Homo sapiens: one gene and its partner. The protein of the gene in region 2 interacts with the protein of the main gene of each other region in a pairwise test. Each region holds a gene or a part of one and is shown on either strand. Other genes may lie near its edges.

Evidence for each region. The genes of interacting proteins can lie anywhere in the genome.
Region 1: the proteins of ALOX5AP (region 2) and TMEM120B interact in binary tests that used the Homo sapiens proteins (3 or more experiments, as listed by UniProt).

What each region holds. Positions count from the first base shown.
Region 1 is NC_000012.12:121,743,576-121,748,199, reverse strand, and holds part of TMEM120B (transmembrane protein 120B), read right to left. Parts: intron 4,572-4,624; coding exon 4,453-4,571; intron 1-4,452. UniProt on the Homo sapiens protein: Necessary for efficient adipogenesis. Does not show ion channel activity.
Region 2 is NC_000013.11:30,744,772-30,750,025, reverse strand, and holds part of ALOX5AP (arachidonate 5-lipoxygenase-activating protein), read right to left. Parts: intron 3,402-5,254; exon of another isoform or gene 3,332-3,401; coding exon of another isoform or gene 3,282-3,331; intron 1-3,281. UniProt on the Homo sapiens protein: Required for leukotriene biosynthesis by ALOX5 (5-lipoxygenase). Anchors ALOX5 to the membrane. Binds arachidonic acid, and could play an essential role in the transfer of arachidonic acid to ALOX5.

The sequences.
Region 1 (4,624 bases), on a different chromosome or scaffold from region 2:
CTTCTACCCCAGCCTCCCACCTTCTACCCCAGTGCCTCCCACCTTCTACCCCAGCCTCCCACCTTCTACCCCAGCCTCCCACCTTCTACCCCAGCCTCCCACCTTCTACCCCAGTGCCTCCCACCTTCTACCCCAGCCTCCCACCTTCTACCCCAGTGCCTCCCACCTTCTACCCCAGCCTCCCACCTTCTACCCCAGTGCCTCCCACCTTCTACCCCAGCCTCCCACCTTCTACCCCAGTGCCTCCCACCTTCTACCCCAGCCTCCCACCTTCTACCCCAGTGCCTCCCACCTTCTACCCCAGCCTCCCACCTTCTACCCCAGTGCCTCCCACCTTCTACCCCAGCCTCCCGCCTTCTACCCCAGCCTCCCGCCTTCTACCCCAGCCTCCCGCCTTCTACCCCAGCCTCCCGCCTTCTACCCCAGCCTCCCGCCTTCTACCCCAGCCTCCCGCCTTCTACCCCAGCCTCCCGCCTTCTACCCCAGCCTCCCGCCTTCTACCCCAGCCTCCCGCCTTCTACCCCAGCCTCCCGCCTTCTACCCCAGCCTCCCGCCTTCTACCCCAGCCTCCCGCCTTCTACCCCAGCCTCCCGCCTTCTACCCCAGCCTCCCGCCTTCTACCCCAGTGCCTCCCGCCTTCTACCCCAGCCTCCCGCCTTCTACCCCAGCCTCCCGCCTTCTACCCCAGCCTCCCGCCTTCTACCCCAGCCTCCCGCCTTCTACCCCAGCCTCCCGCCTTCTACCCCAGCCTCCCGCCTTCTACCCCAGCCTCCCGCCTTCTACCCCAGCCTCCCGCCTTCTACCCCAGCCTCCCGCCTTCTACCCCAGCCTCCCGCCTTCTACCCCAGCCTCCCGCCTTTTACCCCAGCCTCCCGCCTTCTACCCCAGTGCCTCCCGCCTTCTACCCCAGCCTCCCGCCTTCTACCCCAGCCTCCCACCTTCTACCCCAGTGCCTCTCGCAACCGCAGTTCCCCATCTCAACTCTCGGGGTTGGAGGAGTGATGCTGCCTCCCAGGTAGTCTTGTGACTTTCAGAAAGTCCTTAAACCTCTCTGCCTTATTTTCCATACCTGAAAAGCCGGGATAACCTCAAGCCTACCTCACAGACAATAGCCTGGTGAGGATTAAATGAGTAAGTACAGCATAGAGCATCTAGAATAATACTTGATAGTATGAGCTCAAGGGATAATTACTGACAATACTATTTTTCTTCTCATTTTTCTTTTCTTTTCTTTTTTTTTTTGAGACAGAGTCTTGCTCTGTCGCCCAGGCTGGAGTGCAGTGGCGCCATCTCGGCTCGCTGCAAGCTCCGCCTCCTGGGTTCACGCCATTCTCCTGCCTCAGCCTCCCAAGTAGCTGGGATTACAGGTGCCTGCCACCACGCCCAGCTAATTTTTTTTTTGTATTTTTAGAAGAGATGGGGTTTCACCATGTTAGCCAGGATGGTCTCGATCTCCTGACCTCATGATCTGCCTGCCTCGGCCTCCCAAAGTGTTGGGATTACCGGCGTGAGCCACCACGCCCGGCCTTCTTCTCATTTTTCTAAAGAAATAGCTAGCAGGCATGATGTTATAGTCCCAGCACATACGCCTATGATCCCAGCACTTTGGGAGGCCAGGGCAGGAGGATCACTTGAGGCCATGAGTTTGAGACCAGCCTGACTAACATAGCAAGACCCCGTCTCTATAAAAAATTAATTAAAGAAAACAACCAAGGCCGGGTGCAGTGGCTCAAGCCTGTAATCCCAATACGTTGGGAGGCTGAGGTGGGCCGATCACCTGAGGTTGGGAGTTCAAGACCAGCATGACCAATATGGAGAAACCCCGTCTCTACTAAAAATACAAAATTAGCTGGGCATGGTGGTGCATGCCTGTAATCCCAGCTACTCGGGAGGCTGAGGCAGGAGAATCGCTTGAACCCGGGAGGCAGAGGTTGCAGTGAGCCAAGATCGCACCATTGCACTCCAGCCTGGGCAACAAGAGCGAAACTCTGTCTCAAAAAAAAAAAAAAGTGGGGGGGCGGTTTAAGAAAACAACCAGGGGCTGGGTGTGGTGGCTCATGCCTGTAATCCCAGCACTTTGGGAAACTGAAGTGGGCAGATCACCTGAAGTCAGGAGTTCGAGACCAGCCTGGCCAAAATGGCAAAACCCTGTCTCTACTGAAAATATAAAAATCAGCTGGGTGTGGTGGCAGGCCCCTATAATCCCAGCTACTTGGGAGGCTGAGGCAGGAGAATCACTTGAACCCGGGAGGCAGAGGTTCAGTGAGCCAAGATAGCACCACTGCATTCCAGCCTGGGTGACAGAGCAAAACTCCATCTCAAAAACAACAACAACAATAACAAAAAACAACAACCAAGCATGGTGGTACATGCATGTAGTCCTAGTATTCATGAGGCTAAGGTGGGAGGATCGCTTGAGCCCAGGAGATCAAGGCTGTGGTGAGCCGTGATTGCGCCACTGCACTCCAGCCTGGGTGACAGAGCAAGACACTATCTCAAAAAAAGTAAGGCCAGGCATGGTGGCTCACACCTGTAATCTCAGCACTTTGGGAGGCCGAGGCAGGATGATCACTTAAGGTCAGGAATTTGAGACCAGCCTGGCCAACATGGTGAAACCCTGTCTCTAGTAAAAGTACAAAAATTAGCTGGGCGTGGTGGCGGGCACCTGTAATCCCAGCTACTCGGGAGGCTGAGACAGGAAGAATTGCTTGAACCCGGGAGGCAGAGGTTGCAGTGAGCCGAGATTGCACCACTGCACCCCAGCCTGGGCAACAGAGCGAGACTTCATCTCTGAATGAATGAATGAATGAATGAAAATAATTTTAAAAAATAGAAATAAAGGAATAACCTACAGATGACCAAGAGACAGACAAAAAGGCACCTGAAAGCATAAGCAGTCGACCAATCATGGTCTGTTATTCTTTGGTAACACGGAACTCTCAAAACCAGAAAACAAGTCAGCAGACACATCTCAGAATGACAGGGGTCCTTGGTCTAAGACCCTAACTCACGGGTCAACCTTCTAACCCAGCACTTCTCAACTGAGGACAGCTGGCAATGCCTGGAGAGATCTTGGTGGACACACCTGGGGCAGGAGTGCTACTGGCATCAGTGGGCAGAGGCCAGGGATGCTACTCACTATCCCACAGTGCACTGCACGGCCCCCACAAAGACCCATCAATAGTGCTGGGGTTCGCCATGTGCCCATCTGTGAAGCAATCACTGAGAATCTGAAGAAACTCTAGACTCTGAGCCCTGCCATTACCAAGATGTGTTTTTCCAAAGCCACATCTGGTGACGTGTTTGCACAGGGCCATCCACACTCTCTACCCCTTAGTTGCGGGCCTCCATTTCCAAAATGGCCAGCCACACTGAGAGCTATAATCAGGACCTTCCTCCAAAATTGTCCACAAGGAAAGAGTTGACCAGGAGTCCCAGATTCTAAAATGGAGGCCCAGCTAAGTGACCTGGGACAAGTCACTTGGAGCCTCAGTTTCCCTGCCTGACAATGGGGTCACGGCATCCACTGGGCCCCTTCACATACCAGGCAGGAGGGGACTTCCCAGACCTGGAGACCATGAGTGTCAGGAAATGAACACGATCCAGGCCTTGGGAACTGAACTAAGCTATGAGCTCAAGCACATCTCCACCAGGGATGGCAGCCTAGTGGCCACTACACCAGCAACCCCAGTGGGGAGGGCACCCCACACCCACAAAAGGACGCTGCCTGCTTACTTGTCCGGCAGGGCACCTTCCTATAACAGCACCCAACTTTCACCCGGGAAACTACTTATCTTCTTCTCCCATCACCCATGTGGCCATCCCTCCACCGCCCAGGGCCACAGACTTAGCACACGGCATGGCGCTGCCCAAGCAGCTTCTCAGTGATTGGTTCACAAATGGGCATTCAACCAATCCCAGCCAATGAGGACTGAACCCAGAATGTCGGCTGAAGTACTGGGAACGAGAAACTCTCGGCCAGGCACAGTGGCTCATGCCTGTAATCACAGCTACTCAGGAGGCTGAGGCAGGAGAATCGCTTGAACCCAGGAGACAGAGGTTGCAGTGAGCCGAAATCATGCCATGGCACTCCAGCCTGGGCAACAGAGTGAAAGACTCCATTTCAAGAAAAAAAAAAAAAAAAAAAGAGAGACACTCTCCTTCAGCCAGGGTGGCACAGCCGGCAGGAAGCAAGGCTGGAGAATATAAGCCTGGCACTGCTGGTGAAGGGGACAGTCACCCTGAGAGTGACACCAATCCAGAGGAAGGCAGAATTTAGAGGGAAAAATACATGCCCCAAAACACCCTTTGACTCCTGGATCCAGTGATGCCTGAAGCAACTCCCAGTCCTGTCTTTTTCCACTGAGATTTCCATTCTCTGCTTCAGCCTGTTTTGAGTTGGACTTCTGTCCCTCAGAACCAGGGCAGCCCCCGGGCTACAGCTGCACCTACCTCTGGAGTGTAAGCTTCAAGTCCTTGAGGTGCTTCTTCTGCTTACTGATGGAACTGCTACACAGCGTCTGCAGCGCAGCCAGCTCCTCCAGCTTCTGCTTGTAGATCCTGTGCGTCTCCTGAAGAACAGGGGACCCGGGGGAGGGTGTGTGGGAGAATATGAACAGCTCAT
Region 2 (5,254 bases):
CGTTTGAGAACCACGGGTTTCATGTGATTATATAGGTAAAAACAAAGATGCAATTTTCAAACTGCTCATGCAAACCATTAGGGTCTCATGCCTCAGTGGTACCACTGAGAACTTGGGAATGGCCAGCCCTTCATCTGTGCCCTGCAGAGAACCCAGAGAGATCAGGTTATCTGCGCCTCACCAATGGAATCTTCGTGGTCCTCTGATGGTCAAAAGATCCTTTTCTGGAGAAGTCTATGAAGGTAACAGATGAGAAACCTACCCTGGAATCCAGGCACAACCAAAAACCAGGAACAGGACAGAAAGAGCAGACCCCTGCTGACCTTGCAAAGTGCTCTGAATCCCAGAATTTCCACTGATCTAATGGACACGGTAGGAGCTCCAAAGGGCAGGAGGCCCCTACAAATTTATCACTGGGGTGAAGTGCTTAGTGAATAAACAGGTCCCCAAGTAACAATTGCAGCAGCTACTGGGCACTGGCATCACATCTATTCTTATATGTTACTAGAGGCACAAAATTGCAGCCTCAGGACTGAGAAAATATGATTCATTTTCCAGTTCAAGAAACTTAGAGAAAAAATTCCTTTTTTGGTTATTCGAATAACATTCTGTGTCTGATGGGGTAAAATATCTGGTGCTCTTATTGTTTAAAAACTTATTAGTACCAAAGATTTCCCCTGCTTCCTTCTCTTTCTCATGTTTCGGGTCTTTGGTTTGTTTTTAAGTAGCGATTTTGTCTGGGTTATGCAAAAGGAAAAAAATTCTTAATTGTCTAAGGGATTTGCTCATTAGAAATGTGAACTGCCTAGTGATTTGACATTGGGTCCGTATTCAACCATTCCTGACTATTAGTTCAAGTCACCTTCGTTCCTAATAAAACATGGTCAGCCTGGAGTTGAATGAAATTCTCCCAGCTGTAAGAAAATGGGTTCCTCCTGTGGATTTCCAGAATATTCTCAGAGCCTTGTTCCTGGCTCTGGCTCAAGCCAGTCCCTCTCGCCATCCAGGACTTCAAGTGCAGCTTCTACCCAAAGCTGCAAGCTTATGTGCCCCTCCTGGAGAGGGGGTTGCTGCTGGGCTGAATTCAAGTGGCTTTAGCCATGACAGCTGCCCAGTGGCTGCTCGTGTAGTCTTTGAAGTTCACATGGTCTGGGCCCAATGCCATGGCTGCCTCTTATGGGCTATGTGAGTGTGGGTGCATTTCCTAGCCTCAATGAGCCTCAGTTTGCTCATCTACAAGAGGTGGATGGAGACATTAGTAATTACTTCCCTAGACTGTTGTGAGAATGAAACAAGGTGAAGTGCCACCTGGCTCACAGTAAGCATTCAATAAGTGGTGGCTATCATTGTTCCAATGTCTTCCTTCTTAACCCCCAGTGGAAATGTCTTTCCTATTGACAAATTATTATTATTCTGGATTTTCTTTTGAGAAATTTTGCGCTATTTTTTCTGCAAAACAGAACTGATGAACCCATTTTGAGTCTCATTCCTTGAGGTCTAAATAGGAGCTACTCAGCAGATCTTGCAACAATTTGCTGTGGTATGTTCAACTTGATGTGCTGCACTATTCATGTTTTTATGGAGAAAAGAATTCGTTGCTATATTCCCTTTCATTTTTCTCCACCTCTGGGAATAAAACATAGAAACTCTTTAGTGTTCCGTTAATTAGTTTGGATTAATTTAAAGTAAGTAAATATAATTAATAACAGTTTATTAATAATAGTGTCAATACTAATTGACAGGATCATTGTAGACCTATCACCTTTAAATAATTTTACAAGTCTATGCCACTTGAAAGTGAGTCTAGGCCAGGCACCAGTGGCTCACGTCTGTAATCTGAGCACTCTGGGAGGCCGAGGCGGGCAGATCACCTGAGGTAAGGAGTTTGAGACCAGGCTGGCCAGCATAGTGAAACCCTGTCTCTACTAAAGATACAAAAATTAGCCGGACATGGTGGTGCATGCTGTAATCCCAGCTACTCAGGAGGCTGAGGCACAAAAATTGCTTAAGCCCGGAAGGCAGAGGTTGCAGTCAGCCAAGATTGCACCACTGCACTCCAGCCTGGTGACAGAGTGAAGCTCCATCTCAAAAAAAAATAAAAATAAAAAACAGAAAGAAAGTGAGTCTAGAATGGACACCAAGAGATAAGAGATGCAGGGAGAAGCGACATGAGGGTGGTATTCCAAAAACATGTTTTGATACACTCTGCAAAAAGTGGGCGGTAGGGGTGTCTGTAGTTAAATAATACATTCCCCTCTTAGAAAACCAAGAATCAGAATACCCTTAAACGTCCTCAAAAGTCTGTCTATAAAGAACTTGTTATCCCCTGTAACACCTGTTAAAAGTCCATGAACTTGTAATCCATTTAGAAAATTACACCTCTCCAGAGACCCTTCTCCTCTCTGCAACCTGTGCTTACTTACACTCACAAAGAGGAATCTTAGGTCAGCTAACAAGGATTTTTCTCCAAAAACCAAACTTTGACCAAGGCTGCTCTAGCCATGCTCATTGGCTGGGAATAGGACATTAAACTGTGTTTTATACATGTGAACAGGCCAGGCACGGTGGCTCACACCTGTAATTCCAACACTTTGAGGGGCCAAGGCGGGTGGATAACCTGAGGTCAGGAGTTCAAGACCAGCCTGACATGGTGAAACCCCGTCTCTACTAAAAATACAAAAATTAGTCAGGCATGGGGGCATGTGCCTATAATCCCAGCTACTCAGGAGGCTGAAGCAGGAGAATAACTTGAACCTGGGAGGCCGAGGTTGCAGTGAGCCAAGATCGTGCCACTGCACTCCAGCCTAGGCAACAGAGTGTGACTCTGTCTTTCAAAAGAATGAATTAATTAGAATTAAAATATACACGTGAACAGAGTCCAGGTCCAATTCCTTTTAGCTCTCAAACCCTGGCTCAGCTCTGCCCTCATGGGAGATGGGTGGAGGGACAGCCCATTAATTAAGGCCAAGTCTGAGCCGATGAGCCACACTGGCTAGTGTATCTGTTCAGCAGCTGCCCCAGAATCTTGAGCTATCTGTATCAGTCAGCAGTTGTGTTTTATGCTAAAAATACATGCATCTGTCTTTTTAATCCACCAGTATCATTTATCCTTCATGCTGTTTTTCCTTGATAGCCATGGTCCCTAAACATTTATGATCCCACACCCCATGAACCAAAAATTTTGAGCATGCAACCTTATAACAAGTATATTTGCATATAAACTATATACACATACTACTGTCCATGTGTATATTAAAAATGAGGAAAGCTTCATGTCTTACTTTTCAGATAGCAAGATTAAATGCATGTTCTTTTCTTCCTGCAGCCTCATGGGTCATCTTGCAACCCTTTTCAGTGCTCTTGGATGCCCCTGGAGAAGCTGCTGCTGGGACGACTTTCTCCTAGAATAACACACAACCCCATTCCCAGTGGTTTCCTGGCACAGGCAAACAGACCAGCTGCCTCTGGCTTTTGCCAGCATGTAGCTGCCTGCTGCATTGATCTTTGACCCTTTTTACAACCCAGACAGGCACACAGATATGTTGCTGGCCCAGGGAGGAAGTGGTCTTTGTAACAGAACCGCAGCAGTGTCCAGACAGTTTTTGTCTTACAGAAAACTCTCCACCCTGCCTGCTTAGTTCCTACCTTTCCATGGCTATCTCTCCCCTCCCTCATCCTTCTCCTTCCCTCTCATGGAGGTTGAGTGTACAGACCCATGGGTTTTGAGAGCTGGGCTGCAGCACCCACACGGTGGGGATGCCCAAGCAGCAACAATCACTTTCCACTCTCCTCTTACGCTTTTTAATCTCTGGCACCCCACAACGACTGTGGAACTTCCAAACGACCTTCCCAAGTGACACAGCATAGCCACCAACCAAAGGGCACTTCTGCAATTTGGAGGCTGGCAACTAGCGAGCCCAGGTCTAAGCACCATGGCTTCTTACAAACAGAGCTGTTCACTCCCGGGGGCACGTGGCAGAAACTACACAGCCTGGCCTGCTCCATTTCTTCTTCATTGCCAGCAAATTGGAAACTTAACTTCTAACCAGATATGGTGAAATTGCACCATAACTTCTCCAAATTGGTTGAGCTGAGGAGTCCATAGGAACACAATGTGACCAGTGAGAATGCAGTCACCTGGCAGAAGTTTTTCTTTCCAAACTGATATAGCATAGTAGGAATGCTTTCTTTGGATTTCGTCTGGGGAGAAGTTTTGACCTTGCCTCATCAAAGACACCTTCTTTGCACCTCTTGCATGTGGATGTGTCCAAGGCGGGACTCTAGTATCTTTCTCTGCAGATGGTGCAAAGAGGCTGACAGCAAGTGACATAATTTCTGTACTCTCCTCCAAATGGTTTTAAAATGTCTTAAATCACACCTTTAAACATCTTAAATTGATTCTGAGAATTAATACATGGAAGACCTAAATGTTAAAATAGAAACCTCTCTATAATCAGTTTAGCAAAGGATTTCCTTGAGGTCAGACTGCTGGAATAGCCCTGGACAGAAGTGCTTGGGAGAAGGGAGTGGAGCCCAGAGCACGTGGGAGCATGGAGAAAGAGGGAGATCTAGGTGGCCCACTGTAGCAGCACTGTGAGTACTCAGGGGCTGTCTGAAAGGGAAAATGCCCACAGAGGGCAAGGGGCCAGGCAATCAACCTGTGACTACCGTACTAATGCGTTCGAGAGTGGCCCAGCGATTTCGGAGCTGAGGGAGCAAAGCAGCCAATGAAAAACTGCAATGGAGGAGATGCCCCCTCCAATCCCCTCATGCCTACACCTCACTGAAACAATTAAAAATACCTAGATGAGGAGAAGGACTGAAGAGAGAGTATATCAGTGAGTGTGATATAGGCCTGTTCAGTCGAGATCCCTTGAAGCCAGTTTAATTCACAGGAAACCAACGGTACCCCTGAAGGGGACCCTCCCTCCCATGGTGCCAGCAGCAAGCCCAGGGACTCCAACCCTGCAGTGTGAATCTTTGTCCTGAGTTTGCACCATTCTTGGCATTCTGAATACATTTTTCTTGGGTGACCATGACTCCCCCTTTGGAAGGATCTCTGGGAACATCAAAGTTGCTCCTGGGATGGAACTGAAGGCCAGCTCCTCCCTTAGCTCTCTAGCATGAGGCCTTCCTCTGTGACAGGCCCCTAGTCCGTAGTCCATAGTCCCCAGCATGCCTGCCACTGGCTGAGCCTTGAAATACACTCTGCATAAAGAAGAGAGGAGCATTTGAATAACATTCATTCGGATTT